Linked DNA regions of Homo sapiens: region 2 is linked to region 1. Evidence: fine-mapped expression QTL. A gene starts in region 1. The other region holds a variant in brackets. All regions are shown on one strand. Distances are from middle to middle. Region 1 holds the start of AHNAK (AHNAK nucleoprotein). Region 2 holds the start of LOC102723765 (a long non-coding RNA gene).

Evidence for each region.
Region 2: its variant is fine-mapped to the expression of AHNAK in whole blood (TOPMed, PIP above 0.99).

What each region holds. Positions count from the first base shown.
Region 1 is chr11:62,538,938-62,555,195 of GRCh38, reverse strand. AHNAK (AHNAK nucleoprotein) reads left to right here and starts at 8,390. Exons shown (of 5, transcript NM_001620.3): 1 at 8,390-8,536. RefSeq lists silencers at 8,239-8,408, 8,529-8,598, 8,879-8,928, 8,939-9,058, 9,589-9,718 and 1 more and enhancers at 2,414-3,219, 3,220-4,025, 7,753-8,283, 8,862-9,372, 9,373-9,883 and 4 more.
Region 2 is chr11:62,423,201-62,439,458 of GRCh38, reverse strand. It overlaps LOC102723765 (a long non-coding RNA gene), which reads left to right and starts at 12,536. Exons shown (of 4, transcript XR_007062699.1): 1 at 12,536-12,772. It also overlaps a transcript of AHNAK not described here. RefSeq lists enhancers at 4,385-4,884, 4,885-5,386, 12,751-13,298, 14,648-14,717, 14,758-14,847. The variant A/G (reference allele first, on the strand shown) is at 10,208.

The DNA of each region.
Region 1 (16,258 bases):
CGCCTTGGCCTCCCAAAGTGCTGGGATTACAGGCGTGAGCCACCGTGCCTGGCCTGCTCCTGTATGTTTGAATGTGATTCTGGGGTTCCCACCCCGTTCTCTTCCTCTAGTGCTGTGGAGCTCACATTGGTGCTCCTGAAAGGTTACAGAAACTGCCACCTGTTCCTGTCTGTTTGCTCCAGTCAGGCTGGCATGGCTCCCAGAGCAGGCTGTTGTTTTACTCCAGGGGAATTACTGGGGTGTCCCAGTGCCTCAGCACCCAAGGGATGGGTGGAGTAGGGTATGGTGGGGGGTGCTGGAGGGCAGCACTGCCATCAGTTGCATCTCCCATTAGAGGGAGAATACCTTGGGCTGGTGGTACTGGCTCAGTGGTGATGTCCTGGCGACCCCGTCTCAATGTTCCTGGGCTCTCTTCACTCCCCTAGGCCCCTCCCTTCTCCACCCCTCTTTGTTTTCTTGATTTCCTCAGGATTTTGAGGCAAGCCTATTGAATGGGCGATGTGCAGATCATTGGGGCAGATGGTCAGTTAGGGTTTGGGGCTATTTCTGATAGGATCTCCCATGGAATGTGCCTCCACTCCCAGCTGCCCCCTCCCCTCTGCAGCAGGAACAGCTGTCATGTGAAGGCCTCTCTGCTGGCTCAGCCCTTTTGCAATCATCTGGCGGGCTCTGCTGGGATGGGGTGGATGGTGAAGATGGGCAGAGCCAAGGGGTGAAGGAGGGAATGTGGTAGGGCAGGGGGAGCTGTCAGAGGGTAAGGAGGGCTCTAGAGTTCAGGGCTGAGGGAAGAAGGGCTGCCAAGGTCAGGCAGGAGGGGTGGAAGCTGCTGAGCAGGCCAGGGAGGTGGAATGATGAGCTTACGGTACCCATCCTGGGAGACTTTCAAGGTGGAAGGATAGTTGGTTATAGCGGGAACCCAGGCAGTCATCCTTCAGGGAGATCCGCATTTCCCCTGACTCACAGGGGACCCAAGGGGTGCTTTCCGGCTCTTCTTCCATGTGGGACCTGAGTCACCAAGATGCCTAGGGTGTTGGCTGCCCTATGGTGGCAGGTCCTGTGCCCAGCCCTGCCCTACCCTACCCACTCTTACTGTTAGGACAGGGGTTAGCAAACACGCCCCTTTTATCCCACTCTTCAATAGTAATTACCCATCTCTTTGACTCAGACATACAGAATGTACCTCTTGCAGGGACTGCCAGAGACCGTCTCTAATAACCCGTTATTTTACCAGTGGGGAAACTGGAGCCCAGAGAGTTGAAGTGACTTATCAAGGGTGCATCCGAGCTTTTCCACAATCCTTGCAGTCACTCACTGAGTCACTTCTGCTCCAAAGCTGAGCAGGAGGATGCTGCCCTCAAATGCTGAGGGATAAGGGTGGTGGACACAGCATACCAAGTGTGGAGGGGCAGGGAGAGCGAGGCATCTAAAGGCTTCCTGCACCCGTAGCTTGGTAAGGGTAGCTTGGTAAGGAGCGTGGAAGTGGAGCCAGCCCTGGGGCCAGGGTCAGATGTAGCGATCCAAGTCCTGGGGCGGGCACAGGGCACGGAGTGTAACAGAGGCGGGACTTCGAGTGACAGGAACCTCAACTATGTGGTGACTCAGGCTCTGGGCAGCCTAGGCCCTTCCTTCCCTGCTCAGCCTGATCTCCTTCAACTGGACTTAGGGAACTGTAAGCAGAGGAGAGAGGGAAACCCAGGCTGGTCTCTCTTTCCCCAGGAAGCTGGGGGAAAGGCAGAGGAAGTTGGAAAGGACAGGAGAAAAGCAGATTCCAAGAAAGGGGTGAGGAGGTGGTGTTCCCCGCTTCCTCAGCCCCTCCCTCCCTGCTCCCCACTGGGGAGGGGAGCTGGCTGGGGCGTTGGCTGCTCCGTTTACTCCAACTCCCTCCCTCGGCTCCTGTTTACAACTCAGCCCGCCCAGTCCTTAGCTCAGTGCTGAGCTCTTCTGTTTTCTCTCTCTCCCTCCCTCCTTCCTTCACAGCCTCATGTCTTGTCGCTTCTTTTCCTTAATCTCAGGTCTGCATCTCCTCTTATTGCCCCACAGCATTCCCACACCCCTAACTCTGCCTGAAATCCAGCCATGACCCATCGTGTCCACCTGCCCCACTCTCCCTGCCCAATTTCTTTCCCTTCCACCTGCCTGGACAGTCTTTCTTTGCCTTCTTTCCTCCCAGACGGTACTCTGGAGACAGCCTCATGTCTCTTGTTCTCTAACCAGCTTTAACTTGGGTTCTGGTTGGGCTTGAAGATTTCATTAGGACTGAGTGTAATTGGAGAGTTTCTGTGTATCAAAGCTCTCTGATCTAAGAAATTCAGGAACTCCTTATTTGAAGCTTGAAGTTTAAATACAGGCTGGGATTTGAATTGAGCTGGGGAAGGATGATTTTACTTGGCTTTATATTTTCGGCTAGGGTTAAGGGTTTGGGGCTTGAGAATTGCTTAGGAAATAATGTTTGGATTCCAGAATCACCAGATAGATTTGCTTTTGGGGGGTGGGGTGGACAATGACAGATTAGGAAGTGACGGAAGTGAATGGAGAAGGGCCTGTTTGGCAGGGATGCTAATCCCTGGGCTGGTGTGTGTATGGGGTGGAGGCGGGGTCTGGGAGATCCCAGATGGTGCTAAGAAGGGTTAACAGTCATTTCTTTGCTGCTGCTGCTGCTTTTTTTTTTTTTTTTTTTGAGACAGAGTTTTGCTCTTCTTGCCCATGCTGGAGTGCAATGGCGCAATCTCGGCTCACTGTAACCTCCGCCTCTCAGGTTCAAGCAATTCTTCTGCCTCAGCCTCCCGAGTAGCTGGGATTACAGGCGTGCACCACCACGTCCGGCTAATTTTGTATTTTTTGTAGAGACGGGGTTTCACCAGGTTGGTCAGGCTGGTCTCGAGCTGCTGACCTCAAGTGATCCACCCGCCTTGGCCTCCCAAAGTGCTGGGATTACAGGCGTGAGCCACCAGGCACAGCCCATTTTTCTGCTTCTAAGAATATCATGCAAAAGAACCTTCATGGGGGGAAAAGTCTGCTTCTAAAGAGACTGCAAACAGACCACACACTTCATTTGCCTTCTGGGATCAGAAACTGAGATTACCCTTTGAGCAGTCAACCTCTTTTCTTCCTTGTAACATGCTGATTTCAGAAAAGGGGACTGTGGAGAGAAGGGAGGGGAAGGGGAATCCCCTGGCCAGGGGCCTGCCCACAGAGCTCCCCTTTGTGGTTACTATGGAAACAGGCATAATAGGAACAAAATAGAGGCAGGTTGCCTGGCAACAGAAGAGCCCAAGGTTCATTACAGACGCGCGCACACACACACAAACTGACATATACACACACACGCAAAACAGGTACATATCAGGGAACCTCCCCCACTCCCCAGGGAGGCAGTGTCACTTCTGGGGAAGCTGGGGTATCCCTGTGATGACAAGTCCTAGAGCTCATCCAGCTTTGGCAGTGCGTGTGGAGCACTGTGGTACCAGCTCCCTCTGAATGGTGGTGGAGCACTAGCGGCAGGGCTGACCTCCCTCTTATAAGAGGAAAGCCTTTACTTTATATCACAGAGGAGTCTAAACCTTCGAGAAGATGGAGGTTTTCTTTGCAAAGTAGGGACCGAAAGAACTCCTTAATACTCCTTATAAAACATGGTGTGTAAAAACAAACAAAAAACAGGCCAGGTGTGGTGGCTCACGCTTGTAATCCCAGCACTTTGGGAGGCTGAGGCAAGCGGATCATGAGGTCAGGAGTTCGAGACCAGCCTGGCTAGCATGGTGAAACTCCGTCTCTACTAAAAATACAAAAATTAGCCAGGCGTGGTGGCGCGTGCCTATAATCCCAGCTACTTGGGAGGCTGAGGCAGGAGAATCGTTTGAACCCAGGAGGCAGAGGTTGCAGTGAGCCAAGATGAGCCAAGATCGTGTCACTGCACTCCAGCCTGGGCGACAGAGCTAGACTCCATCTCAAAACAACCACCACCACCACCACCACAACAACAAAACAACAAAAACACCCAAAACATAGTGTGTCGGGGGGGTGCTGGCGGGGGAGTAGCTGTGTAAATTACCTGGTAGGAAAGATAACTCCAATTCTCTGGAGGCATAGGACCTCCAAGGAATTCAAAGGACAAGGTAAAGGGGTATCGGAGCCGTTTCCGCCTGGACTGAGCTTTTTGCTGGGATTCCATCTTGCCAAGGTCTCTATTGCTTCCACCACCACCACAGTTCCCCAACCCCATATTGGACACACAATAAATGTTTGGGTAGCTGCAAGAAAGACCCACAAGTAGAGGAATTGCTCCCTGGGGGCTGAGAGCCAGAGGAAGTTGTGACAGCCTGGGATGCAGGATGCTATCTATTGTAGAAAAGGCAAGGGCTTTGGAGCCAGTTATACCTGGAGTTCATTCATTCATTTGAAACATGCTCTTGAGTGATTGCTATGTGTCAGTCAGTGCTCTAGGCATGAGGGGCCAGGGTGCGGTGGCTCACACCTATAATCCCAGCACTTTGGGAGGCTGAGGTGGGAGGATTGCTCAAGCCCAGGAGTTCAAGACCAGCCTGGGCAACATAGTGAGACCCTATCTCTACCAAAAAAAAAAAAAAAAATTAGCTGAGCATGATGGTGTGTGTCTGTAGTCCCAGCTACTTGGGAGACTAAGGTGGGAGGATCACTTGAGCTTGAGAGGTTGAGGCTGCAGTGAGCCATGAATGCTCCACTGCACTCCATCCTGGGCGACAGAGTGAGACTGTCTCAAAAAAAAACAAGCAAAAAACCAAAACAAAACAAAAAATCAGTTAATCTAGGCACAAAGCATACAGCAGAGAAGAAAGAACCCTGTCCTCATGAGGCTTAAATGCTAGCGGAAGCTTTGACTCTTGCCTCTGTGAGTTGTGTGATTTTAGGTAAATCACGAACCCTTTCTGAGACCATTCCTCACTAAGTGCCTCCCTCCCAGGGTGTGCAAGGATTAAATGAGCTGACAGATGAAAGTAGCTCCTGACAAAGTGGCTCACACCTGTAATCCCAGCGCTTTGGGAGGCTGAAGTGGGCAGGGATCACCTGAGGTCAGGAGTTCGAGACCACCCTGGCCAACATGGTGAAACCCCATCTCTACTAAAAAATACAAAAATTAGCCAGGCATGGTGGCACACGACTGTAGTCCAGCTACTTGGGAGACTGAGGAAGGATAATCACTTGAACCCAGAGGTGGAGACTGCAGTGAGCCAAGATCACGCCACTGCAGTCCAGGCTTGGCAACAGAGCGAGACTCCCTCTCAAAAAACAAAACAAAACAAAACAAAACAAAACAAAAAAAAAACCAACGAAAGTAGCTGCTGCAGGATCAGACACAATCATATTAAGGTAGTTTTGGGAGGGGGTGTGGGGGAGGCTACACCAGCGGGCAGAAGGAGAAGAGTTGGCAGAAGTTTCTAAAAGTGTGCGTTTCTCCACTTAACACCACTGAAAACTTTTGAAAATATTCCCCTCCCTTGGGCTGAGGTGGCAGTCTTAGGAAACCCCAGCTCTGTTCCAGCCTGCAGGATCATTTTTTTTTTTTTTAGACAGAGTCTCGCTCTGTTGTCAGACTGGAGTGCAGTGGCACGATCTCAGCTTGCTGCAACCTCCACCTCCTGGGTTCAAGCGATTCTCCTGCCTCAGCCTCCCGAGTAGCTGGGACTACAGGCGCACACCACCATGCCCGGCTAATTTTTGTATTTTGAGTAGATACGGGGTTTCATCATGTTGCCCAGGCTGGTCTTGAACTCCTGACCTCAGGTGATCCGCCTGCCTCGGCCTCCCAAAGTGCTAATTTTTATATTTTTAGGAAAGACGGGGTTTCACCATGTTGGCCAGGATGGTCTCGATCTCTTGACCTCATGATCTGCCCCCGCTCAGCCTCCCAAAGTGCTGAGATTACAAGCGTGAGCCACCGCCCCCGGTCAGGATCATGGTTTTTTAGAGGGTAGGGTTGAGGTTAAGCCTTCTCTAGCCCTCCAGTCTGGAATGGGACAAGAGCCAGTCCTCAGAACTACCCCCCGACCAGGTAATCTTGACATTCATATCCCTGAATGAAGTACCTGGTCAGTGATCTCTGCTCTGGGGCTGCTTCAAAAACCAACCTCTCCCTCCTGCCTTCTTCCCTGTTGACCAAGAGGGTGGCCAGAACAAACAATGGAGCAGATAAGTTGGCTCTGAGCCTGGGACTCTGGCCTCTGCTGTTTGGATCCTGGGGGGCCGATCTAGCCCAGTCGAGGCGAAGACACAGCGTCCACGCCTTTCCGTGCTCTTCTTCCTTTTCTGCTCTAGCAGCCCCCCACGCCCCCTTAGCCCTTTTTGCAGATACCCTGTGTTTCCAACCTAGGTGTGAATCAACTCCTGTTTTAATATGCACTGGGAACATTCGCTCTTTCAAGGAACGAGATGATGATTCATTCCATAAAGTTAAAAATCCTTTGGTAAACTGTTAACAATGGTTACTTTTGGGAAGAGGGACTGTGATAGGGGAGGAGGGAGAAGTCTGTGTTTTATTGTACTTTTTTTTTTTTGAGATGGAGTCTCGCTCTGTCACCCAGGCTGGACTGCAGTGGCACGATCTTGGCTCACTGCAACCTCTGCCTCCCAAGTTTAAGGGATTCTCCTGCCTTAGCTTCCCGAGCAGCTGGGATTACAGGCTGCGCCACCATGCCCTGCTAATTTTTGTATTTTTAGTCGAGGCGGGGTTTCACTATGTTGGCCAGGCTGGTCTCGAACTCCTGAGCTCAAGTGATCCACCTGCCTTGGCTTCCCAAAGTGCTGGAATTACAGGTGTGAGGCATCGCGCCTGGCCTTGGTAATTTTTTTTTAAGTGTTCTATAGCTCAAAAGTTTTAGATTTGTTTTTTCTTTAAATAAGGTAGGTGCTAGGAAAGGGGTGCAGAACAAAATGGGGGAGCAGGTGATTCTTGGGAAAGTGTGAGTCTGTGACTGTGTGCTTGGGATGTGTTGTGGCGAGGCTGCCTCTGCCATGGGGTTGAGTCATTATCTGGGCACCTGTGTGTGTGTATTAGAGAGAGCAAGAGAAAATGCTGGTGCCCAAGTCTCCGCTTTGTGTTTTCACATGTCTCTGCCTGTCTGGATGTCTGCACATGCGGCTCCACCTTTCTGTGTCCATTATATGAGTGCCCATGTCTGTGGTTCCTCTGGCTGTCTCTTCCCTCCCCCACGGCCTGTACTCTGTGCCGGTAACTGGACCTGGACACAGCCCCCAGGGCTGGCAGCAGAGTTGACTGCTGGGTATTTTTAGCCTGTAAACATGTTTGCCATTTCAGAGGACAGGGCCGAGCTGGTCTCAGCTCCAGCCCACTCATGATCTTGCAGCAAGGAGGGCGCTCCTGCCTTGGCCAGGTCTCCTTAGTTCCCCAGCCTGGGGTCTCTCTTTCCTTAGCATTTGGGAAGGAGGGGAAACTGGCTTGGAGCGGGCAGTGGGTGGCCACCTAGGAGGGAGGATAAAAGGACTCATGAGGGAGAAGAGAAAGGGAGTGTGGAGGGGAGTGTGTAGCCAGAAGGCCCCCGCACCCCATCATTAAACGTTTAATAAAATCTCGATGTAGTTAGAAGTGGCTGTGGGAAATCGCTGTAAATTAGGAGACTCAGCGTCCCGCAAGTGGGGAGGCGGGGGCGGCGCTCAGAGAAGGAATGGGAGGCAGAGGAAGCGCTGGGGCTCTGGCTCCTGGGGGCGGGAGTCTGGAGAGGAAGGTGGGCGTCGGGTCCGCTGTCCAACGCCCGGGGTCCTCACCCCCGTATGCCCGCGGCCTGCGCAGCACCGCGGTGCGCGAGGCACTGGTGACCCCGGCTCCTGGGGGGTGGAAATCCAAGCCAGTTCTGTGCGGATATGGACGGAGGGGCCCCCAGAAAGAGAGAACGCGAGAAATGGGCGCGGCAGCACGGAGCTTGGGAACCAAGCAAGGAGGCTGGGGCCTGGGATCTGAAGTGTAGTTGCCTAAGCTGAGAGAAAACTCAAAGGTCCGGAGCAAGCTGACGGTCGCGGCTGAATCACCCAGCCACCTTCAGAGCCCCCAGGCCCTTCCTGCAAAATAAGTTGATTCGCAGTTCCAGCTGTGAGGGTGAGCCCAGGGAGCCTGCAGGAGTTTCTTGCCAATGAAGCCACACAGTGCACATGTTGGAGAGCAGGTCCAGGTCCGGGACAGGACAGGGGGCAGTGGATGCGGGGAGGGGGGGAAAGAATGTCCCCGCGTCCCCCAGCGGCCCCCCTCCCCAGCAGCCCACTCCCGGGTCCCTCCAGGGTCTGCCCCGCTCGCCAGTCCCAGCCCCGCTCCGGCCCCGCCCGGCCCCGCCCTCTCCCCACAGCTCCGGGCAGACCCGCCCGCCCGAGCCGGAGTTACAAGAGCCGCCTCCGCGCACGGGGGCCCGGCCACTCGGAGCTGCTCTGCCGCGGGGACTGCACCGCCCGCCCTGCCAGACCCGCCCGGAACGGGGCTCGTCGCCGCCAGTAGCCGCAGCACCGCAGCCTTGGGCCTCGCGCCGGCTATGGCCGTGCCCTGGGGCTGAGCCCTCAGGTAGGGGCGCCAGGCGCACCGTGGCGCCATCGGGGTCCGGGGCACCAAGGGCGGGTCGCGGGGAGGTGGGTTGCGGTGCTCCGGCAGGGCGCGTTGTTGGGGGTGTCACTGTGAGGATTCAAGCAGTTTGGAGCAAGCGGGGCCACCCGGGGCGGCGACGCGTCGCTCTCTGGGAGCGGAGTTCTGCCTCTGGAGTTGGGGCGCAAGTTGGTTAAAGTTGGAAAATCGCTCCGAAGTGCTTTGCTCCACTCTTTATTTCTCCGGAGGGCGGACTGTTGGCTCCACTGCAAGGCAGGGCGCCCCGTTCCGGGCCTGGTGGCCTCTGTCCCACCTCCTCTCCCTGCATGGGGCGGTGGCTCGGGGGCTGCTCCGTTCGTATCCCATGTTTACTGGAGGGGAAATTTCCGAGATCGCCACCGCGGCCCCCAGCGCCTCCGCGCCTCCGCGACCCCGCACCGTGCGCCCCCTCGGCTGTCCTTCCGCGCTCCCTGCACCTCTGCCCCTAACCGCGTCCCGAGTCGTCCAGGCCCCACCCTGTTCTGTACCACCAGCCCCTCAGCCTCCTCCAGCTGCCCCGCCCTAGCCTTGCCTCTCCGCGTTCCCCGCTCCAGAAAACCTTCCTCTCGGGCCGCGGAACCTGGAAGTTTGCAATGCGCCTCCCAGCGGGATGGGTGGGGAGGGGGACAAAATTAGGGAGATTCCTATGCTGAGGTGGGCGAGGAGGGGGGTGCGCTGCGGCGGCCCAGTCCTCGGGACCGCCCCTTCCCCTCCGGAGGCGGCGCTTTCCCCCCGCCCAACTCCCAAACCCGTCCGGGCGGGATGGCCCCCGCCCCAGAGCCTGGCCCGGCGCCAGCAGCCTGAGGAATGTGGTGGTTGGAGCCGGTGACTAATTCAAACCAGAACTCAGGGAGGAGTGGTGAGGGGCAAAGGGGAGGAGGAAGGGGCTGTGTGTGGGAGTTGGGGGCAGGAGCCGGGCTTGGCGTGGGAGGAGGGCTAAGCTGCGCTCGCTGGAACCCTGCGCTCCAGCGGTGCGCGCCAGGAGAGGGGGCCCGAAGCGAGGTCTCGCCTAGAGTTGGAAAGGCAGCGTGCTTAGGGTGTGTGCAGAGCTGTGTTATGTAAGGCTTTCCCATGCAAGGGGAGGGGGTGTGTGTGTGCAGTGTGCGAGGGCCTGGGCCGTCCCTGGCAGGGCTGGTCGCCCCCCAGCAGTGCCCAGGCCGGGATGTGGGGGCGCAGCCCCTTGGCGGCGCTGACCATGAGGGACTCCAGGGGCCCAAACAGGGCTGGCTGTGCCCCTTGCTGGGAGGGGTGCGGAGGGGGCAGATGGGTGTTCTCAGCTGTAGCCGAGGCCCCACAACAAGGTGGGGAACGGCTCTGGCCCCTCTGCACAATGAGGCCACTGAGGGTTGTGTGCGATGTGTGTGCTTGCCGGTTTCGCAGGGTGTGGCTCCCGCCGCGGCGACCGTGGCAGTGAGGTGCTCCCAGGGAGCGTGCGGTCGCTGCAGAGTGCCCTGCTCTGTGGAGGGGATTTGTGGAAAGGCAGTGTGGGAGCCTCCCAAGTCAGTCAGGTCCTTAGACCTCCGGAGTCTCCGGAGGAAAAGGGACCGAGATATCTACCTCTGTGTCTCCAGCACAGCGCTGGGCGCTCAGTAAATACTGGTTTCGAACCCGTCTTCATTAGAATCCAACCTCGGATTGCAGGGCTCCTGCTCTCTGCTTGCCCGTCCCAGCACAGCCTAGTGCATGGTAGGTGTTGGGTTGATTTTGTGGAATACAGTGAGGGGCTGCAGCAGTGAAGCTGAGAGTGGGGGAAGGCGTTTAAGGGCCCCTGCACCTATACTGGCTGTAATTCAGGGTAGAGATCTCGCTTTCATCCCCTCCCCGTGAGGGAAATCCCAGGGGCAGGGTGTGGCACTCACTTCCTTTCAGAAGCTGAATGGGGGGAAGCTTCCTTCTCCAGTCCTTAGGGACAGCGGGGTCACCCACCCCCCACCGCGTGGATAGTGGCCTGTGCAGAATGGGGAGGACAGGGGAGCCCCCAAGTTAGGGGCACCTCTTTGCTCTGAGCTGTGAGCTTTGGGGTGAGGGAGGGTGGGAGAGGAGCTAGGGAGGGTAAGAGTGGAGCTAGGAGAGGTCGCAGGGTTTGGGGGCTGTGGGAATGTGGGTTAGAGGGTGTCTGAGCCCCTCTCTAAAGCCTTTGTCCCTAAGAGGTTATGCACAGGGACACTGGTCAGAGAACAGGGACACATGGGGAGCCACATAAGTCATGCGGGCTGATATGGAGGCCCACAGCAGCGATTCAGGGGTCCTGGTCCGGGAACTCCTTGAGGAGCCAACCCCTCGGAGCTGAGGACTTGTGGCAGCCAGACATGGTCCAGGGCCAGGGGTGGGACACAGGGACCTGTTGAGGGAGAAGGTCCAGCGTCAGCCCAGGGTACGGAGTTGGCTGGGGGTCCCCGGAGTCATCTTAGCCCTCAGGAAGTCCTGGGGAAAGGTGGCGGTGCTGCCAGGCTGGATTCTTTTGCTCGACTTGGAATTGGCTGGTGGGTCCTGGCAGAGCCGGTCACCCTGAGCCTGAGGAGCTGGTTTGAGGGGTTGGGGCAAAGCCGTGGGGGCGGAGGGGTGTGTGGGGCTCTGGGGTGTGGTCACCACCTTCTTTAGAACTTGGGAACTGCCTGGAGACAGACAGAGAGACAGACCGGGAGAGCTAGTCCTACTCCTTATGGGAACAGTGTGGCTCTCTCCCCCACCATTCCCGAGGCCCCAAAGTTTCTCTCCCCGGAGCTGGGCTGGCACCGTGCTGTGCACGCTTAGGTTTGAGGAAGGGTGATGGCCGCTGGGGAGGATTTAGAATGTGCTGCTTGGGCGGTGGCAGTGGCAGGGATGGAGGGCCTTCTGACTTCTCTTCGTCCCCCATCGATTCATCCAGGCTGGCATTTCCCTGGGCTCAGGCCATCCGGTGGGACTCCCAAGGCTTCCTGAGCACGAGCAATTTCCAGCGTTCCTGGGTGTGCCCGAGGGAGTGTGGGGGGCACGTGGGTGGGCCACAAGAGGATTCCGAAGGAATGAAGCCCCTTTTCCTCCCTGCTGGCCTCAGTTCCCACCAGGGCTGTGGCTGAGCTGTCGCTGGCAGTCTTAGGTAGGTCACTGATAGCATTGCAGGTGTCGTCCCACTGTGGCTTTAGGTCCTTGTGACCACCATGTCACAGCTTGTCTCTGAGTGAGATGTGTGTCATTGCCTGTGAGAGAGTATCCCACTGGTTGTGAATGAAGGTCTTCCCCTTGTGGCGTGCCTGGATGTGTCACCTCTGCCTGCGTTGTCATCGGGCTTGGAGGCAGAGGATGGCAGTGGCATTCTGCTCTGGTGGTGGAGGTTTCCTGCGGGCCCGTAGGGGTTGTAGGTAAGGACTGAAGTGAGTTTCTCGGTCCTGGACATGTCCGCACGCGCAGTTTGTGTCCAGAAGCCTTTGGGAGGTTGAGGACAGCCTTGGGGGTGCAGGCCCCAGCTGAGCAGGCTAAGCAAGGCACTGCACACGGCCTGTCAGGGAGGGGCATCCTGCCCGGTCCCCCGGGGGCTGGAGCGGAGGTTCTGGGGGAAGGGGAAGTGCCTGGAGCTGATCCCGTCTACAGCTACGTGTCCTGGCGGGGCTCGGGGGTAGCTCTTCAGCGACAGAGCCGGAGCGGCCTGGCCCCACGCCCCTGCAGTAGCGTGGTCCGACCGCTGGGGGGAGAGCAAGCAGCGCCCTCCCCAGATCCCGGCCTTGGGTGGGGCAGACAGGCAGCTTCCAAACTGTAATCTACCCCACAGGGCAAGACCAAGCGTTCTGCTCCACCCCCTCTCCTATAGGACGCCACCCTCAGAGTTGGTGTCTTAATCCCAGTGGTTCTGGGTAAAGGCCCACTCTTCCCTGCTTCTGTGTCCAGGTGTGGGGACTCCCCACTGGATCATAGGCTGTCCCCAGCCCCCTTTCACAAGGATTGCAGAGTCCCTCCTGGCCAGGGAGGGAAGAGGGAATCTCCCTCGCTGCTGGAAGTGAGAGCTTGGAGCTTCAGGGCTTCCAAGCTCACTGTAGCATGGGATGGGGCTGTGCGTGGCTGGGGTAGAGAGAGATGGAGAAAGGCGTCACAGCAGAGTCAGAAAGCAACCAGCTGGCTGAGGTTGGGGTGTAAGGGCTGCCCTGGAAGTCAGCATGATGTGAGGGGCCAGGGGAAGGGGGTGATGGGGAGGGGAGGGCTGGAATGACAAGGATGGAAAAACTTCCTCCTGGTGGGAGTTGTGGCTGGGCTGGCGCCTCCCTCTCCTAAGGGCAGGGAGCAGGGAGGAGGCCAGGCAGGTGCACACACACAAGGGGAGGTGCAGGCTCAAGGGACACAGGTGCCAGGTAAACAGGCATAGGGACCTGCAGGACAACTGTCTATTGTGAGCCGGTGAAGGCTGGCTGGGGCTGCAGGCTGCCCTGGGCTGTGTAGAGTGGAGAATGGGGCTGAGGGTCTCCGTGTACTAATGGTGTGTATGTGTGTGTGTGTGCTTGTGTGCCTTTCTTTGAAGGTGCCCAAGTTGCATGTGTTTTGCAACATGTTCATCTAATTCTTCCTGGTAATTCCACCTCCCTAACCTGCCCCTCCTCCCTGCACACTGCCCAGAATCAGCTAGGTGGGTTTGTAAAAGTTGTTAATGCCAGCTTAGACTCTGAGATGTCTGCGCACTTCTGCTCCGGTTAGAATGTGGCATAATGTTTTTTCCTAAACAAGCCTGGCAGCTGCATCCTCGGGGGTCCATTCAGAGGGCCAGGCCCTGGAAGGGATGTCACCCTTGTTCCTTTGGAACAAGGGCCTTGGGGGTCAGAGACTCCTGGGCTTGCATTTCAACTCTGTCTCACACTTGGGCAAGTCATCTTATCTCTTGGGCCTGCTTTCACTTCTCTGAAATAAGGATATTAATTCTTTTGACATAGCATCATCATTTGGGAGTTGAATGAGACCCCAGGCATGGGATGTTGCCAACACAGTCCCTGGCACATCAGAGCGCTCTGCAGAATTCTCTTTCTACTTGTGTGTGGGGTTTTTTTTTCTTTCAACATGGAACTTTCTGTTCCTCTTTGCCTCCTGTTGAGTGTTTATGAGAGCAGACCATACTGTCTTCTGGGTGTGTCTCTCTGAATAGCCTCCCTCTCCTCCTGGTTCCGAATGTTGGGGGCTTCCCCTCTGGTAGGGGTCTCTAACTCTGGGCATGAGTCATTTTGTTCCTGGGATGAGGACTGCTTCTCTTTGGCCTTGTGTGTGTGGTGGGTCGATTGGCCTATGTGCGTGCTGCCATGCTGGGCGGAAGTTTCACTGTGGCCGGTACCCTCCCTACCACGGATGGGGTGATTTTCTTCCCCTCGGAGGGTTGCCTCCTGTGTCCCGCCTGTGCTGGGTGGATGCACAGTCATGGGCCCCTGTGGTGTGTATCTTGTCCTCAGGTTTGGTGCATTTGGGCACTGAGGCCTGTGGCCTGTCTCTGGGGGAGTGTGTGTTTCAATTCCTGTCATCTCCACACTGACGCTGGCTGCAGGGCTGTCTCTAGCTGCTGCAGCAGTTGGCCCGGTTTCCATCCTGGCTGTCTTTATACTGGCTCCTCCGGGGAAGGGGCACTGTTCTCCGAGGGCAGTGGAGGAAGGAGGCTCCTCTGGAGGTCACCCCTGGCAGAGGCCATCTGCTGGGGTCAAGAATCTGCTTCCTGGAGTTCTGCGTCTACTTGGCGTTGTCCCCAGTTGCAGGGTATGGGCAGAGCCCTGCTGCTCGGCACATCCTCTTTGCAGTTTTGAAGTGACAGGATGGGCTGTTCTCTTGCTGCTTCTGGCCTGAATTACAGTCTGTCCCGCAGCGTCAGGCATACGTGCTCTCACCTTTGCAGCTGGAGCGGCCTCGCCATCTCATTCTTTTCTGCCCTCCAAGCAGTCTTCTGCCTTAGGGGGTCTCCACTCTGGCCCTGCTCCTTCTTTTTTTATTTAAAAAAAATACATTTTTATTTTTTATAGAGATAGGGTTTTGCCATGTTGCCCAGGCTGGTCTCAAACTCCTGGGTTCAAGCGATCAGTGTGTCTTGGCCTCCCAAAGTTCTGGGATTACAGGCATGAGCCACCACGCCTAGCTCTGTCCCGCTTCTTGCTATCACGAGGGAGGCTGTTGGGTGGACCACCGGGCTGTGTGCTAGCAGGCTCTGGGACTAGGGTCCCAGCACACTCCCATTCTCTCACCTCTCTGGACCTTACTTTCTCCATCCTTAAGTAACAGGCAGTGCCATCCCATAAAACTCTCGGCAGTGGGGGAAGTGTTCTGTGTCCACGCTAATATAGTAGCCAGTAGCTACATGTGGCTGTTGAGCTCTTGAAATGTGGCTAGTGCAGCCAAAGCTAAAATTTTAATTTAACTGAATTTTAATTGATTAAGTTTAAATAGCCACATGTGGCTGCTGCGTTGGGTGGCACAACTCTAGGTCTCTCCTAGCTCTGAAGGCTTATGGCACTTGGCTGAATCGTGCAGAATTCCCCAAAGCTCCAAAGACCTTCTTTTGGCTAGCAACAGGGCAGAGCCCTCAGCCTCCAGGGAAAGCCTGACTTAACCTAACTTGTGTGGGAGGAGAAGAAAGGACCACTTGGGCTTGATACAGGCTCCAGAGGTGGAGGAGAGACTGAGGGCTGGGACCCAAATGCAGAGAATGGGAAACCTGGCTACACAGTATCCCACGCCCCTCCTTCAGTATTCCCTTCAGTATTTCCATGCCCTTCCGCGGAACTGAATGGCCCAGGTCAGATGAGAGGGGAGTCCTTCCAGGCTGTGCCAGGACAGCAGGGCCACAGCCAGAGCAGGCAGGGTGGTTGGCAGCCCCACCTGGCCGGGAAGCCACTGGGTGCCCTGCCAGGGCCAACCTGCAGCTTCGGGTCCAATGGCTCCCGTCCTCACGGGCTATTGGATCGGTGTCTACTTAGGATGGTTTCTCCCCTCCTCAGGAACCACGTAGGTTGCATCTGTCCTGGGCCTCAAAAGGGACTTCTGCCCTGGGACTCTGCCTGAGGCCCTGGCAGGGAAGCCAACTGCCTGTCTGCAGGGCAGCCCTGGTTCCTCTGGCACCTGGGGGTCTGGCCCAGGAGGCACTTTGTCCTTGGGGTTTTAGGCTCAACCCTTTGCAGGTCTGGAGCTGTTGCAGCCAGCTGCAGTGACTCACTGGGGCGGGAGGGTGGGGCCGAGGTGTGGGCGAGGGTGAGCTGGCCCAGCTAGCTCTTTCCCCCTCGCTGGCTGCTGGCACAGCACCAGGATGCTGGGGTGAGCAAAGGGGCCCTGCTCCAGGAGGAGGACAGGGGTGTCTGGGCGATCTGAAGGAGTGGCTTCAGTTCTGTCTGAGAGATGAAGTCTGGAATCTGTTTTCCTTCCCTGCCTCTGCCTGGCTGCTTTTCTGCAGGGCTGGCTCCTGAGCACTGGACAGTGGGAGAGAATGTGCCATTTAAGCCCCAGCTTTGCTGTTTCTTGCTGGGAAGGGTCAGAGTGATTTCCTGTCGCAGCCTTCTCTGCAGCCGGAAGGGAGGAGGTGTTTTCGCCAGTTTGCACCTGAGCCCAGAGGCTCAGAGTCTTTGCTCACCTTGTAGCCAGCACCTGTGTTGACAAGGAGACACATTGTCCACACCGCGTTGTCAAACAGGAGGATGGCTGTCGGGGGCTGGGGTCTGTGTTTCTCTTTCATCCGTG
Region 2 (16,258 bases), 120 kb after region 1:
TAAGGTGCTAGCCCTAGAGTACTAACCAGCATTCACTTTACAGATGAGAAAAATAGGGAAACTGCCCAGGCGCGGTGGCTCACGCCTGTAATCCCAGCACTTTGGGAGGCCGAGGTGGGCGGATCACAAGGTCAGGAGTTCGAGACCATCCTGACTAAAACAGCGAAACCCCGTGTCTACTAAAAATACAAAAAAAATTAGCTAGGCGTGGTGGCGGGCGCTTGTAATCCCAGCTACTCGGGAGGCTGAGGCAGGAGAATGGCATGAACCCGGGTGGTCAGAGCTTGCAGTGAGCGGAGATCACGCCATTGCACTCCAGCCTGGGTGACAGAGCGAGACTCCATCTCAAAAAAAAAAAAAAAAAAAAAATAGGGAAACTGAGAGGGATGGGTGTCCATCCCTCTCCTTCCTGGTTCACTTTGGAAGATGCCACCTCTGTTAAGGGCCGCTCCTGTGGGATTTCAGCAATGCAGCCAGGTCAGCAGTGGTACCTGTTGATGCTACACAGCAACCTTAGGATGGCAGGCTGCATAGTCCAAAGGCCCAGGAAGTCATTATCATATGAGCATTCTCATGTGAGCCGGTCATGATTAGTTTTTCTATGAGACCTTTGCTCCTCATTGAAATAACAACAAATCAGTTGTCTCCACGCCAGAGGAAGATACCACATAAAGCAAGACTAAAAGGAGCAGAGAACAGAGAAGGTCTTCCTGGCCTTAGGGATGGGCAAACATTTCTAAAACAGAATGCAAACAGCACTAACCACAGAAGAAAAATCGATGAATTGGACTTTATCAAAATTAAATCCTCTCTTCATCCAAGGGCACCATTAAAAAAATGAAAAGGCAAGCCTCAGACCTGGAGAAGATATATATCTGCAATACATATGTCTGATAAAGTATTCGTTTCTAAAATATTTGAAGTACTGCAGATCAATAAGAAAACTAAAAATGACCCAATTAAAAAAATGAGAAAAAGAGGCCAGGTGCGATGGCTCATGCCTGTAATCTCAGCACTGTGGGAGGCCGAGGCAGGTGGATCACCTGTCAGGAGTTCGAGACCAGCCTGATAAACACGGTGAAACCCTGTCTCTACTAAAAATACAAAAATTAGCTGGACGTGGTGGCAGGCACCTGTAATCCCAGCTACTCGGGAGTCCGAGGCAGGAGAATTGCTTGAACCCGGGAGGCAGAGTTGCAGTGAGCCGAGATCACACCACTGCACTCCAGCCTGGGAGACAGAACAAAACTCAGTCTCAGGAAAAAAAAAAAAAAAAAGAGAGAAAGAAAAAGACTTGACCAGGCACTAACAAAAGAGGATACCCAGATGGCCAAATACACTGTGAAAAGGTGCTCAACATCATTATTCATCAGAAAATGCAAATGCGCTGGGAAATTAGCTGAGCCTGGTGGCACAAGCCTGTAGTCCCAGTTATTTGGGAGACTGAGGTGGGAGGATCATTTGAGCCTAGGAGTTTGAGGCTGCAGTGAGCTATGATCATGCCACTGCACTCTGGCCTTGGTGACAGAATGCAAAAGAAAAAAAAAGAACAACATAGACACACAAAACTCCCACAAAAAGATACTACTACACACCCACCATAATAGCTAAAATGAAAAGACTGACAATACCAAGTGTTGCTGAGAATATGGAACAACTAGAACTATTGCATATTGCTGTGGGGAGTGTGGAAGAGGTACAGCCACTGGGAACATTGTTTGGCAGATTATATTAAAGCTATAGATATGCCTGCTGTACAACCCAGAAATTCTACTCCTAAGTATTTGGGTAAGGGATTTGGGCTGGGCGTGGTGGTTCACACCTGTAATCCCAGCACTTTGGGAGGCCAAGGTGGGTGGATAACCTGAGGTCAGGAGTTCGAGACCAGCCTTGCCAATATGGTGAAACCCCGTCTCTACTAAAAATACAAAAAAAATTAGCTGAGTGTGGCAGATGAGTGCCTGTAATCCTAGGTACTCAGGAGGCTGAGGCAGGAGAATCACTTGAACCCAGGAGGCAGATGTTGCAGTGGCTGAGATTGCACCATTGCACTCCAGCCTGGCAGACAGAGTGAGACTCCGTCTCAAAACAAAACAAAACAAAGCTGAGGGGTTTGAGTGCCTATGCTGACAATAATGTATGTACAAAAATGTTCAAAGAAGTTTCTCCAAACCTGAAACACCCCAAATTCCCATCAACAGAAGATTGGAGAAATAAATTGGTGATCTATTCATATAAGAGTACTATGCAATGATGAAAAGATTATATGCTCTGATTCCATTAATATATGGTTCAGAAAGAGGCAAAGCTGATCTATAATGAGTCAAATCATGATTCTGTCTGGTGGGGATATGGATTGGGAGGGTGCATGAGGGAACGTTTTGGGGTGCTGGAAATATTCCTTATGTGGCCTGGAGTGGTGGTTATAGAAATGCCTATTTATGAAAATGATTATCAAGCTGTCCATTGTGTGCTTTATGTACTCTGATGAATGTATGTTATACTTCTTTTTTTTTTTTTGAGACAGAGTCTTGCTCAGTCACCCAGGCTGGAGTGCAGTGGCGCGATCTTGGCTCACTGCAAGCTCCGCCTCCTGGGTTCACGCCATTCTCCTGCCTCAGTTTCCCGAGTAGCTGGGACTACAGGCGCCCGCCACCATGCCCGGCTAATTTTTTTTTGTATTTTTGGTAGAGACTGGGTTTCACCGTGTTAGCCAGGATGGTCTCGATCTCCTGACCTCGTGATCCACCCACCTTGGCCTCCCAAAGTGCTGGGATTACAGGCGTGAGCCACTGCGCCCGGCCTATACTTTTTTTTTTTTTTTAATGAAAAGAAATGCAGATTTTCATGTCCAAGAGAAGTAATAACAATAATAATTTATGGAGCACCCAATATGTGCCTGGTTGCTTTATAGAGATTATTTGCCTTAATCTATCCAAACCACCTGTCAAAATGATATTCTTTTCTTGTTAGAGAGGAGGAAACTGAAGCTTAGAGAGGGACAATAGCTTGTCTGAGTATCACAGCTGGTAAGTGTGGGAGTTAGACTTGAATGCCATATTCTGCACTGTTGCCACTTGGCTTGGGATGTTGAGAGTGAATCTTGGTACAGCATCAAAGCTCTCTGTGTTGCCTGCTACTCCCCCGGAGCATCAGATGTTGCAGACACCATTCTTTAAAGAGAACTTCATTGTGTGAACCCCAAGTTCCCCCACCTTCTTCAAAACAAAAACATGAATTGGGAAGCCCAGCCCCTTTATGAACCCTTTCCATGAATTTGTTCCAATCAGGAAAAGAGCCTGCAACTTCCTCCCCACCCTGTTCATCCTAACTGTTCTGTGTTGTGAATTCGCTGAGAATGAAAGGGGATGGGCTAGAGCTGTCAATACTGTGAGCCAGGCTTGAACTCCAGCTCTGCTCCTTTTAAACAGTGAGGCTCTTGGGTAGTTATTTAACTTCTCAAAGCCTTTGTTTCCTGGTCTGTGAAAAGTGACAGTGGTACTTCCCTTCTAGTCTCACTGTGAGAGTTAAATGCGGTCATATGTAAGAAGTGCTCAGCTCAGCGACAGGTTCATAGCAAGTGTGCAATAAAAGGTAGTGTAGAAATGTCAAAACTGGCTGGGTGCGGCCAGCCTGCAATCCCAGCACTTTGGGAGGTCAAGGCAGGAGGATTGCTTGAGTCCAGGAGTTCAAGGCCAGCCTGAGCAATATAGTAAGACCCCATCTCTTAAAAAGATAAATAAATAGGCCGGGTGCGGTGGCTCAAGCCTGTAATCCCAGCACTTTGGGAGGCCGAGGTGGGCGGATCACGAGGTCAGGAGATCGAGACCATCCTGTCTAACACGGTGAAACCCCGTCTGTACTAAAAATACAAAAAAATTAGCCGGGCGAGGTGACGGGCGCCTGTAGTCCCCAGCTACTCGGGAGGCTGAGGCAGGAGAATGGCGGGAACCCCGGGGGGCGGAGCCTGCAGTGAGCCAAGATCGCGCCACTGCATTCCAGCCTGGGCAACAGCGAGACTCCGTCTCAAAAAGAAAAAAAAAAGATAAATAAATAAATAAAGCTTTCACTTTCCTGGTGCCTAATTCCTTCCAAGCCTCTTAAAGAGGCTTAGCACCTTTGCCCTCTAAATAATTCAACACACATTTGGAAGAAAGAAGTTATGTGAATGGTTTCTTCACAAAGTGTAACATATAGTGAATAAATGGGGCAGAATTGCAGGACTTCAGCAAGGAAAGGGGGGCATTTTGAACTAGAGTGGTCAGATGGTGGTATTATTTGGCTGAGTCTTCAAAAATGGGTAGGATTTAGTCACAGAGAGAAGACCAGGAAGGTCATTCTCAATTAGGGGGAGGGCAGGAGGTAGTTTTTAGGAGCCAAGGTAAAGTTTGGGAAGGGTGAGCAGGTGATTTTGGTTGGTGCTTGAAACTTGTGTAGGGACTAGTAGAAGATAAAGTAGGAAAGGAGGCCTGGTTCCAGATGAGGTCCCATTAAGAAAGCTGGCTTTTTTTTTTTTTTTTTTTTTTGAGACAGGGTCTTGCCATGTTGTCCAGGCTGAAGTGCAGTGACAGGATCTTGGATCACTGTGCAACCTCTGCCTCCCGGATTCAAGTGATTCTTCTGCCTTAGTTTCCTGAGTAGCTGGGATTACAGTGTGTGCCACCACACCCGGCTAATTTTTGTATTTCTTTTTAGTAGAGGCAGGGTTTCACCATGTTGGTCAGCCTGGTCTTGAACTCCTGACCTTAGGAGGTCCGCCTGCCTCGGCCTCCCAAAGTGCTGGGATTACAGGCGTGAGCCACTGCGCCTGGCCCGAAAGCTGGATTTGTTTCTGTTGGAAAAGGAGTTGCTGAACTTTCTTGAGCGCAGGAGGTGTAAGATGAAGCCTGGGGCATGCAGGCCCACGTGGGAGGTGAGAGAGACCAGGCCAGGAGGCCCATGAGAGGACAACCTGCGCATTCATGGGAGTCCGATGGGGATGAGTTGGGTGTGACTCGGGGAGGAGGCACTGGGCTGGGACAGAAGATGTAGTAGTTAGGCTCTGGGAGACGACAGGGAGGGAAGGTGAAGGGCCATGAAGTCTCAAAGCCAGTTGCTTGGGTTCATGAAGCAGAAAGGGTTCATGAAGAGGAAAGGGAAGAGAGAAAGTCAGTTTGGAGATGATAATGAAAGGGATTTCTTAATGGCTGAGGCTGGAGGTGGCAGCTGTTTTCACGGTTCCTACCTTCCTCTGTTATTTGAATGTTCTTGGGAACACACTGTCCTCTTCTGGTCTCGGGCTTGTATGGGGGGCACCAAAAGGACAGACTCGGGCTTTATGCAAGCTTCCTTTCCACCCTTGCCGCACAGAAACCACACAGAGGGAGGCGTGGCAAGACCAAAAGAGACCCAACAGCAGGATCCTTTCCAAATCTATCCCTTCCAGAGGCAAGCATTTGTTTGGATGCCCTAGCAAGGAGTGGGGGGACCTTCTTTCAGTTGGTGCAAAGTTAACGAACCATCTTCTGATTTTATGGAGAGATGCAAATAGTGTGTTGAATATAAATCTCTTTGTTGTTGTTTTACAGGACTGTAGAAGCGGCCAGGAAGAAAACCACCCCCTCTTAAGGTTGTTTTTGTGACCGTTCTTTGGAGCATTGTTCTAAAAATGGGAAATTACATATTGCTGTGCCAAGGGCAACAAACACCTGCAGTTAAAGGAATACCTTCCGCGAGGCGGCTTTTCGGAGCATGCATGTTTATAGCTCCAGCCAGGCCAGACCGAGGGCTGCTGCATAAGCCCTGCTTGGTGCATTTCTTTACTTGCAAGGGGACAGAGTGTGGGCTTAGGTTTGGGACTAGAGGGGGCTTTGGCAACTATGGTGCTCAGGTGATTATCCTTCGCTCGTTTATCCAATAAACATTTATCAAGCATCTGTTCTTGTGTCAACCTTTGTGGTTTTCTCTGTTCCCTTCCCTGGCGTTGTGAGAATCCCTGGGAGAGTTGGCCACAGGCAGCAGCTTGCTGTCACTATTTTTTTTTTTTTTTCAGTTTTCAGAGTCAGCACATGACTGCTGCCTCCACATGACCGAGAACCCCCGCGCGTTCTCTCCTTTCTCTCTTTTCTTTCTCCCTCTTACACCCCTTGCTCCCCCTCCCCTTTCTCTTTCCTCTTTATTTATCTAAAAAAGGAGAAATGTAATCTTTTTTTTTTTGAGACAGTGTCTCACTCTGTCACCCAGTCTGGAGAGTGCAGTAGTATGATCTCAGTTCACTATAACCTCCACCTCCTGAGTTCAAGTGATTCTCGTGCCTCGGCCTCAGTAGCTGGGATTACAGGCCTGCCACCACGCCTGGCTAATTTTTGTATTTTTTTTTTTTTTTTTTTTTTTTAGTACAGACGGGATTTCACCACATTGGCCAGGCTGGTCTCAAACTCCTGACCTCAAGTGATCCACCTGCCTCGGCCTCCCAAAGTGCAGGGATTACAGGGATGAGCCACCATGCCCGGCCAATACATGTATTTTTTAACATGCCAATCGATACGTTTCTTCAGGCACACGCCTTTTCAAAGTTTCCTGTCACTGGGGGTCAGTCTGAAATTCTTATTCTATGGTAGCAGACGTTAAAGGATAACTTTCGATTATCTGGTTAATATTTAACTTTTATCAACATTGATATTGCAAAATAATCAGGTCTTGAAATTTATCAAGCATGAAATGAATACCATTCAGATGGATTTGTGGTTTAAGAGGAATCCAGTTTCATAAACGAGTCTCATCTTTTTTTTTTCTTTTTTTTTTGAGACAGAGTTTTGCTCTTGTTGCCCAGGCTGGAGTGCAATGGCGTGATCTCGGCTCCCTGCAACATCTGCCTCCTGGGTTCAAGCGATTCTTCTGCCTCAGCCTCCCAAGTAGCTGGGATTACAGACACCCGCCACCACGCCCAGCTAATTTTTGTATTTTTAGTGGAGATGGGGTTTCTCCATGTTGGTCAGGTGGGTCTCAAACTCCTGACCTCAGGTGATCCACCTGCCTCAGTCTCCCAAAGTGCTGGGATTACAGGGGTGAGCCACCGTGCCTGGCCAACTAATCTCATCTTTACCTAGAAACAGAAAAGCAGGGAACAACGGAATACGATGAACTTCAAACTTTTTTTGCATTTTGGTTAGAACTTCCTGCCCACAGAACATATGAATTCCTCAAATGGGTCAGCCACAGAGTAATGGGAGGTCTTTTTGGGGGTTTAGGGTCATGTCTCAGGGGCCACTTGGTTATTGATATGGTCCTCCTGGAAGCAGAGAGATGGAATAAAAAGGTCGGGAGGCCAAGGCGGGCAGATCATGAGGTCAAGAGATCGAGACCATCCTGGCCAATATGGTGAAACCCTGTCTCTACTAAAAATACAAAAATTAGCTGGGCATGGTGGCATGCATGCGCCTGTAGTCCCTGCTACTTGGGAGGCTGAGGCAGGAGAATCACTTGAACCGGGAGGTGGAGATTGCAGTGAGCCAGGATGGCACCTCTGCACTCCAGCATGGCAACAAAGTGAGACTCCGTCTCAAAAAAAAAAAAAAAAAGGTCTCGAGTCCTGTAATATACTTAATTTACTGTCTTGGCTTCCACCTTGGTTTCAATTTTTCCACTAGAGGGTCAAAAGTAGAATCCTGCTGCTCTGATCAAGTACTTGACGCAGATGTACATTCGAATGATTTATTTTCCTTTTGCTTTCTTGGGTTTTCTAATTTTTCTACAATGAGTGGCAAGATAACTAAAATGTGAATCATGCCTTCATAGGACTCACATTCTAGAGAAGGCAACAGTTAGAAGCAAACATGCTATAGTAAGATAAATACATGATTTATCCCACTGTAAATACATGCCCCAGATTAGGGGCGTGGAAGCTCAGCAGCAGAAAGAGCCCCTGAACCTCAGGGCACAAAGTGCTGGGTAGGGAGAACAGGGAGAAAGAGCCCACAGACTAAGTCGTGAAAGAATCTGAAGGGGGCCAGACTTAGCAAATGAAATACAGTATGCCCGTTAAGTGTGCATTTTAGATAAATAATGAAACAATTTTTAGTATAAGCATGTCCCAAGTGAGTCATGAAGGATGGAGTTTGGTTCTTCCAGGGACTTTGGGAAGGGAAAGCATTTCAGTTAGCGGGAACTGTTTCTGCAAAAGTGTGGAAGTGTGAATGGCATGGATTTGTTGCCTGTTTCAAATGTGAACGTCTGTGCCTCGACATGAATCGACAAGCCTTACTCAGAGGGCAGTTTTATTTCCGAGCATCATCCACTGCTGCACCCTCAAAGTGAAGGGTAGGTGGGAAGCAGCAGGATTTGAGGCCACAGTGGGAAGCAGGGCCACCATCTCCAGGAGCCTTTGATGATGGGTGAGGGGTTTGGACTTTATCCAACAGGGGACCAGGAAGAGGGAAGGATTTTAAGCAAAAGCATGAACTTCCTGTTTGATTTTTGGCAATCATGGGAAGGAAGTAAGACTAAAATCTTAGAGACTATTTAGGAGGCAGATTAACGGCCCCTCAAGGATCTCCACGTCCTAATCCCCAGACCCTGTGCATGTGTTAGGTTACCTGGCAAGAGAGAATTAGGGTTGCACATGGATGAAGGTTTCTCATCAGCTGACCGTGAGAGGGGAGGTTGTTTTGGAGTATCTGATGGGCCCAGTGTAATCACAGAGATCCTTATGAATGGAAGTGGGAGGCAGAAGAGGAGATCAGTGTCGGAGAGAGAATTGCAGAGGCTGCCCTGCTGACTTTGAAGATGGGGAAGGGGCCATGAGCCAAGTAATGCGGGTGGCCTTTAGAAAATGGAAAAAACAAGGAGACAGATTCTCCCCTGGAGACTCCAGAAAGAATGCAGCCTGCCAACACCTTGGTTTTTAGCCCAGTGAAATGCATTTCAGACATCTGGCCTCCAGAACGAGAAGATCATAAATTTGTGTGTTTTTAAGTTATTAAGTCTGTGGTAAGTTGTTACAGCAGCCATAGAAACTAATGTAGAGGCTGTTTGCAATGATCCAGGTCACAGATGGTGAAGGCTTGGAATTGGCAATAGGGTCAAGAGAAGGGGATAAGGGCTGGGCACGGTGGCTCACGCCTGTAATCCCAACACTTTGGGAGGCAGAGGCTGGCAGATCATTTGAGTCCAGGAGTTTGAGACCAGCCTGGCCAACATGGCGAAAACCCGTATCTATGAAAAAAAATACAAAAATTAGCTGGGCATGGTGGTGTGCGCCTGTCATCCCAGCTACTCAGGAGGCTGAGGGAGGAGGATTGCTTGAGCCTGGGAGGCGGAGGTTGCAGTGAGCAGTGATTGCAACCTTGCACTCCAGCCTGGGTGACAGAGTGAGACCCTATCTCAAAAATAAATAAATAAAAAAAAATAAAGGGATCAATTCCATGTAAGTTGAGATGGACTCAGAGACCGACTGGACGCCTAAGGTCAGGAGGTCAGGAGATCCCCCAGCCCAGCAACCCTTTCTCCTCTCCTGATGCCCCAAGGCCTGCTCCTCCTTCCACAGCTCCCAGGGAGCCTCTGATCAAGTCTCTATCCTGTCCCAGGGCTGATTAGTACCTACTTTTGTGACAGGGGCCTAACAGGGAATTCTTTTTCATTTTTATTTTTGAGATGGAGTCTCATTCTGTCACCCAGGCTGGAGTGCAGTGGTGTGATCTCGGCTTACTGCAACCTCGGCTCACTACAACTTCCGCCTCTGCAACCTCTGCCACTGCAACTTCTGCCTCCTGGGTTCAAGTGATTCTCTTGCCTCAGCTGTAGCGGGGACTACAGGCATGCGCCATCATGCCCGGGTAATTTTTGTATTACTAGTAGAGATGGGGTTTTGCCATGTTGGCCAGGCTGGTCTCGAACTCCTGACCTCAGGTGATCCGCCTGCCTCAGCCTCCCACAGTGGCTTGAGCCACTGCACCCAGCCCTAAGAGGGAACTCTAAAGGAAGCTCTGTAGGTATCTGCCTCGTGGTTACACACACAGGGTGGCTGTGAAACCGCCTTTGCAAAAATTACAACTGAGGAAATTATGACAGTGAAAGAGATCAGACCTAACCGACTCCATCTTCCTTCTAACCTTTAAGCTGTCCTTGTTCATTCCTGGGCATAGGCCTGAACTAACTTTGGGAAGGAATTCAGTTCATGTTTTGACTCTGAAACAAAATTGATAATAGCCATTTCCCTAAAAAAAACCCC[A/G]TTCTTGCCTGTGGACCAGTCTGCCTTTGCAAGACTAACAAATTAGCTACAAGATTAGAAATTTAGTTTAGCGGTCATGCAGCCTCTGGCTCCAAGAGTCTGAGCCTCCCCAGATTGCTCCTGCAGATAACATCACTATTGTAAAACCTAAGATCAGTGCTTGAGATAGTTTGCAGACCCTGCATTCGATGGATCAGCTGACACAACCCAGACTGGTAATCTGGCTCAACCATTTCTGCCATCCTCCCCAGGAACAGAAGACAGCAAGAAAACCACACTTCCACCCCCTAGGATTCCATCTCCAGCCTGACCAATCAGCACTCCCTGCTTCCCAAGCCCTTACCCGCCAAATTATCTTTAAAAACCCCGATCCCCGAATGCTCAGGGAGACTGTTTGGAGTAATAATAAAACCCAGTCTCCCACACACCAGCTCTGTGTGAATTACTCCTTCTCCACTGCAATTCCCCTGTCTTGATAAATTGGCTCCGTCCAGGCAGCGAGCAAGGTGAACCCACCGGGCAGTTACAGCTATGGGCATATAACTGCAGGTATTTTCAGAGTTAACTAGACTCTTGTGATTAGCTGGGAATCCATTCACTTGATGGGGTAACAAATCTGAGTTCCAAACCCCCGGTTTATCAATTCCCAAGCTGGCAATCAATTCCCATGCTAGCTTAGCTAAATGTATTTTCAGATTTTTTTTTTTTTGGGGACAGAGTTTTGCTCTTGTTGCCCAGGCTGGAGTGCAATGGTGCGATCTTGGCTCACTGCAACTTCTGCCTCCCAGGTTCAAGCGATTCTCCTGCCTCAGCCTCCCGAGTAGCTGGGATTTCAGGCACCCACCGCCATGCCTGGCTAATTTTGTATTTTTAGTAGAGACAGGGTTTCTCCATGTTGGTCAGGCTGGTCTCGAACTCCCGACCTCAGGTGATCCGCCTGCTTCGGCCTCCCAAAGTGCTGAGATTATAGGCGTGAGCCACCGTGCCCAGTCTATTTTCAGATTTTTTTGCATGTACTATAGTTTTATAATTTTAGTTTGCTCATGGAAATATGTTGGGTGGCTAACTACTGATGATTCATCCTCACATTATCCCCATGTGCCTGTTGGTGTATTCTGAAAGTGCTTGGGAGGAACATCCCCTAATTACATGTTTCAGAATGCATTGTTTGTGTGGCCTCATCATCATCAATAAAACTTCTCTTGATCGTCTATCTGAAGCCATTTTGAGTGGCAGACACCCCTATGGTGATTACTGCCCACAAATCCCTTGGCTTTCGAAAACAGCAGGGCTTGCATCAGCTGCAAACTAGACATAATTTTATCCATATCATCGTGATAAGGCTAATGAAGGCTGGTTTTGCTTCTTCTTCCTGCCTCATGAGTCATTTACAGATATTTCTGTCAGGCTAACCTCAACTGTCTCTCATACACAACGGCAGCTTTCCTACTGATCAATTAGTCCAGGCACATTGACACAAGCCCCTGGATTTTGCAACGTGATGGCGGTGTTTGACAACTACCATTCTGCTTTAGCTTTCCTCCAGAGTAAGTTTCCTTTGGTTGCAGATTTCAGGGTTAACAGATACTTTCAAAAAGTTTTTCACTCAGATTCAGTTTTCTTGACAATGTGATCAAGAAATGTGGTCTTAGCGGGGCGTGGTGGCTCAAGCCTGTAATCCCAGCACTTTGGGAAGCCGAAGCGGGTGGATCACCTGAGGTCAGGAGTTTGAGACTAGCCTGACCAACATGGTGAAACCCCGTCTCTACTAAGAATACAAACAAATGACCAGGCACGGTGGCTCATGCCTGTAATCCCAACACTTTGGGAGGCTGAGGTGGGCGGATCACCTGAGGTCGGGAGTTCAAGACCAGCCTGACCAACATGGTGAAACCTGTCTCTACTAAAAATACAAAATTAGCCAGCCATGGTGGCATGCGCCTGTAATCCCAGCTACTTGGGAGGCTGAGGCAGGAGAATCACTTGAACCTGGGAGGTGGAGGTTGCAGTGAGCCGAGATTGCGCCACTGTACTCCATCCTGGGCCACAGAGTGAGAAACCGTCTCAAAAAAAAAAAAAAAAAAAAATAGGCCATAGCCTGAGCTTAGCCTGCTGGCCATAGTCTACAGACCCATGCTATAATACACGAGTAACTGGTGTGAGTAACTACACACAGACAGAAAAGCACCCAGTGAACAGTGCCTTCATTTCTCGAATTTCCTGCTTTCTGTCAACATGCATCACACAGTTACATGCTCTTCCTGTGGTTGCAATCAGTTTATCTTTGCATTCTGCTGTTTTAAAATTTAACGCCCATTTCTGTGGATTGGCATAGCCCACATTCTTGTGAATCACCCACAGTGATTCCTGCAGTGTTGTCCCCAGCCTCAAGCCTCTCTGCACCGTAATTGTGCTTCTTTTCCTCAGATACCTGCCTTGCATTGGCCCTGGGTAAATGTTTCCCTTGGCTGTGAATAGGCAATTAAAATTCTGAACCTTTTATGGCTCTGGAAGCTTATCCGATGAAACAATACTCATCCAGGCGGATGGCCCACCAGCGCAAAGGTATGTGCTTTAGGATGACCTGGTGAAGGAGAATGTGATGCCTCAGCAGGGAGGGAGTGGGGGAGGAGAGGGAGCTGGGCAGCCCCCATCAAGGCCCCACCGGAGGCAAGGAATCTCTTTTGGAGTTGCCAGTCCCCCAACCTGCTCCGGAATTTTTACAATCAGATCCCCTCCTTCGTGGCTGAAAATGAAGGGCACGGTGGCTTTCTAGTTTGTGTGTGTGAGTGTGTGTTTGGGGGTAGGTGGACTTTGCTCATCACCATCATTTGGATTTTTGGCTCTGGGGATTCTGGAATTAGGGATCCCACCACCACCTGCAGGGCAGGGGTTGGGGCACGGGCTCTGGAATCTGGGTTGTGTGAGGAGTAATTGAGAGATTGCAAGGCCCGGCGCGGTGGTTCACGCCTGTAATCCCAGCACTTTGGGAGGCCGAGGCTGGTGGATCACGAGGTCAGGAAATCAAGACCATCCTGGCTAACACCGTGAAACCCCATCTCTACTAAAAATACGAAAAATTAGCCTGGCGTGGTGGCGGGCGCCTGTAGTCCCAGCTACTCGGGAGGCTGACGCAGGAGGATGGTGCAAACCCGGGAGGCAGAGCTTGCAGTGAGCCAAGATCACACCACTGCACTCCAGCCTGGGCGAGAGAGCAAGACTCCGTCTCAAAAACAAACAAACAAACAAACAAACAAAAAACCACTACTGGCTGAGGGCGGGCGCGGTGGTTCACGCCTGTAATCCCAGCCCTTGAGGGGCCAAGGCGGGTGGATCACCTGAGGTCAGGAGTTCGAGACCAGCCTGGCCAACATGGAGAAACCCTGTCTCTACTTAAAACACAAAAATTAGCCAGGCATGATGGCAGGAGCCTGTAATCCCATCTACTCGGGAGGCTGAGGCAGGAGAATTGCTCGAATCAGGGAGTTGGAGGTTGCAGTGAGCTGAGATCATGCCACTGCACTCCAGCCTGGAGACAGAGCAAGACTCCATCTCAAAAAAAAAAAAAAAAAAAAAGATTGCGAAAGCGCCTGCCAGCACCTAAGCAATCAATAAGGGTTATTGGGTTGTGGTTTCTGCCTGGGGACTTTAGAAACCGGGCAGGTGGAGGTCAAAGGCCAGCCCCGCCAGCTCCGCATGGTCTTCTCCACCTTTGGGGCCATCTCAAGTTCTAGATTCCATGAACCTTGCCCTTGAAATCGTCTGGGAATGGAATTATTGCTAATCCCAAAAAGGCTGACACATCACTCCCTGGCAGGGTTCAACCGGGTGGCAACATGGTTTGTGTGGCTGCCCCTGTTTTCCCTCAGAATTCGGATTTTAAAACTTTCAAAATATGAGATTTTTATTTTATATATATATATTTTTTATTATTATTTTTTTTTCGAGTGCGATGGCACAATCTCAGCTCACTGCAACCTCCCAGGCTGGAGTGCAGTGGCGCGATCTCGATCTCGGCTCACTGCAACCTCCGCCTCCTGGGTTCAAGCGATTCTCCTGCCTCAGCTTCCCAAATAGCTGGGACTACAGGTGCGCGCCACCACACCCAGCTAATTTTTTATTTTTAGTAGAGATGGGGTTTCACCATGTTGGACAGGCTGGTCTCGAACTCCCGACCTCAGGTGATCCACCCGCCTCGGCCTCCCAAAGTGCTGGGATTACAGGAGTCAGCCACCGCGCACGGCCGAGATTTAAAAAATTATACGGATGACACCAGATCCTCAGAGCCGGAGCTCTGGGTGCCTCAGCCCCGACAGCGCGTCCGCTCCAGGACCCTGTGGACGATGCTGCCCCCTAGTGGCCGCGGGGCACAAGGCCCACCGGACCACGTTGCTCCATGGAGGGGCTCGAACTGGAGAGCTCCGTCTCTAACCCGCCGCCTCCTTCCGTGCCCTCTGCCGACGCCCTTCCGATTCCTGCAGCCCCTCTGCAGTCCTCCACCTTTTTCTTTCTTTCCTTTTGAGACAGGGTCTCACCTTTGTCACCCAGGCTGGAGTGCAGTGGCATGATCATAGCTCACTGCAGCCTGGAACTCCTGGACTCAAGAGATCCTCCTGCCTCAGCCTCCAGAGTAGCCAGCTCTACAGGCATGCGTTACCAAACTCGGCTAATTTATTTTTATTTTTGTAGAGATGGAGTCTCACTATGTTGCCAGGCTGGTCTTGAACTCCTGGGCCCAAGCCATCTTCCTACCTCAGCCTCCCGAAGTGCTGGAATTACAGGCATGAGCCACCAAGCCCAGCCAATCCTCCGCTTCTATTTAGGTGCTGTGGATAATGTGGCCCAGCAGGGGGCTGGCTGCCATGAAACTGGCCGGGGATTTGGGGGTCTTTATATCCACATGGATGCATCTTTAGGATGAGTTCTATTCTTTGCACATTTTGCTCTAGAGCAATTTTAAAAACCAATCAGCCACAATTTTTTTTTTTTTTGAGATGGAGTTTCACTCTTGTTGTCCAGGCTGGAGTGCAGTGTCACGATCTCAGCTCACTGCAACCTCTGCCTCCCAGGTTAAGTGATTCTCCTGCCTCAGCCACCCGAGTAGCTGGGATTACAGGCACGCACCACCATACCTGGCTAATTTTTTGTATATTTAGTAGAGATGGGGTTTCACCATGTTGGCCAGGCTGGTCTCGAACTCCTGACCTCAGGTGATCCTCCCGCCTTGGCCTCCCAAAGTGCTGGGATTACCGGCGTGAGCCACCGTGCCTGGCCATCAGCCACACTTTTTGAGCAGCCAGGGCTGTGTGGCTGGTACAAAGGTCTTAAGGTTGAAAGGGGCTTGGCTCTTTTTAAAAACTGAGGGCAGGGAAGGTGGGGGTGTGTGTGGGGACTGAGCAGAATGAAGGAGCCGTGGGAAGGAGGAGCACAGGAAAGACTGGTGAGGGGCCACTATCTATCGTCAGGATTTAGGATTTTACAATAAGAGCCCTAGAAAGCTTTGAAGGATGGGGAGGGACTTTGCACTTGAGAAGAATTCCTTTGGGTTGTTGGAGAAGGGATTGTGGGGGCCCTGGAGTCTGGCTGGGAGCCAGAGAGGAGGCCCCGGGGGCTGTACAGGCAGGGATGGGGGTGTTGCCTGTGGACTTGGAGTGAAGGATTCCAGAGGCCCTTTAGAGGTAGCCTGGGTTGGCTAGAGAAGGAAGGATCGCGGATGCTCCTCAGGCTGGTGCAGCCCAGCGGGGAGGATGGAGCCAGAACTCACTGAGATAGGAACAGACTGGGGCAGGATCACTGGTTCTGTTGGACAAGTGGAGTCTGTGATGTTGAGTAGAGTCTGTGATGTTGAGTAGATGGTCTGATATAAGGGGAGGGGGCTTGAGCTCTGTTGGAGGCAGAAACCTAGAGGAAAAGAGCTTTGGAAGAGCACAGAGATTTCTGCTGGGATCCAAGGGCAGAGCTCGGCTGCTTTCCTTTTGTCCTGGCTCACCTTACCCTGACAGGGGCAGACCCCCCACCATAACAAGGAGACCAAAACCACGCAGGGGGCAC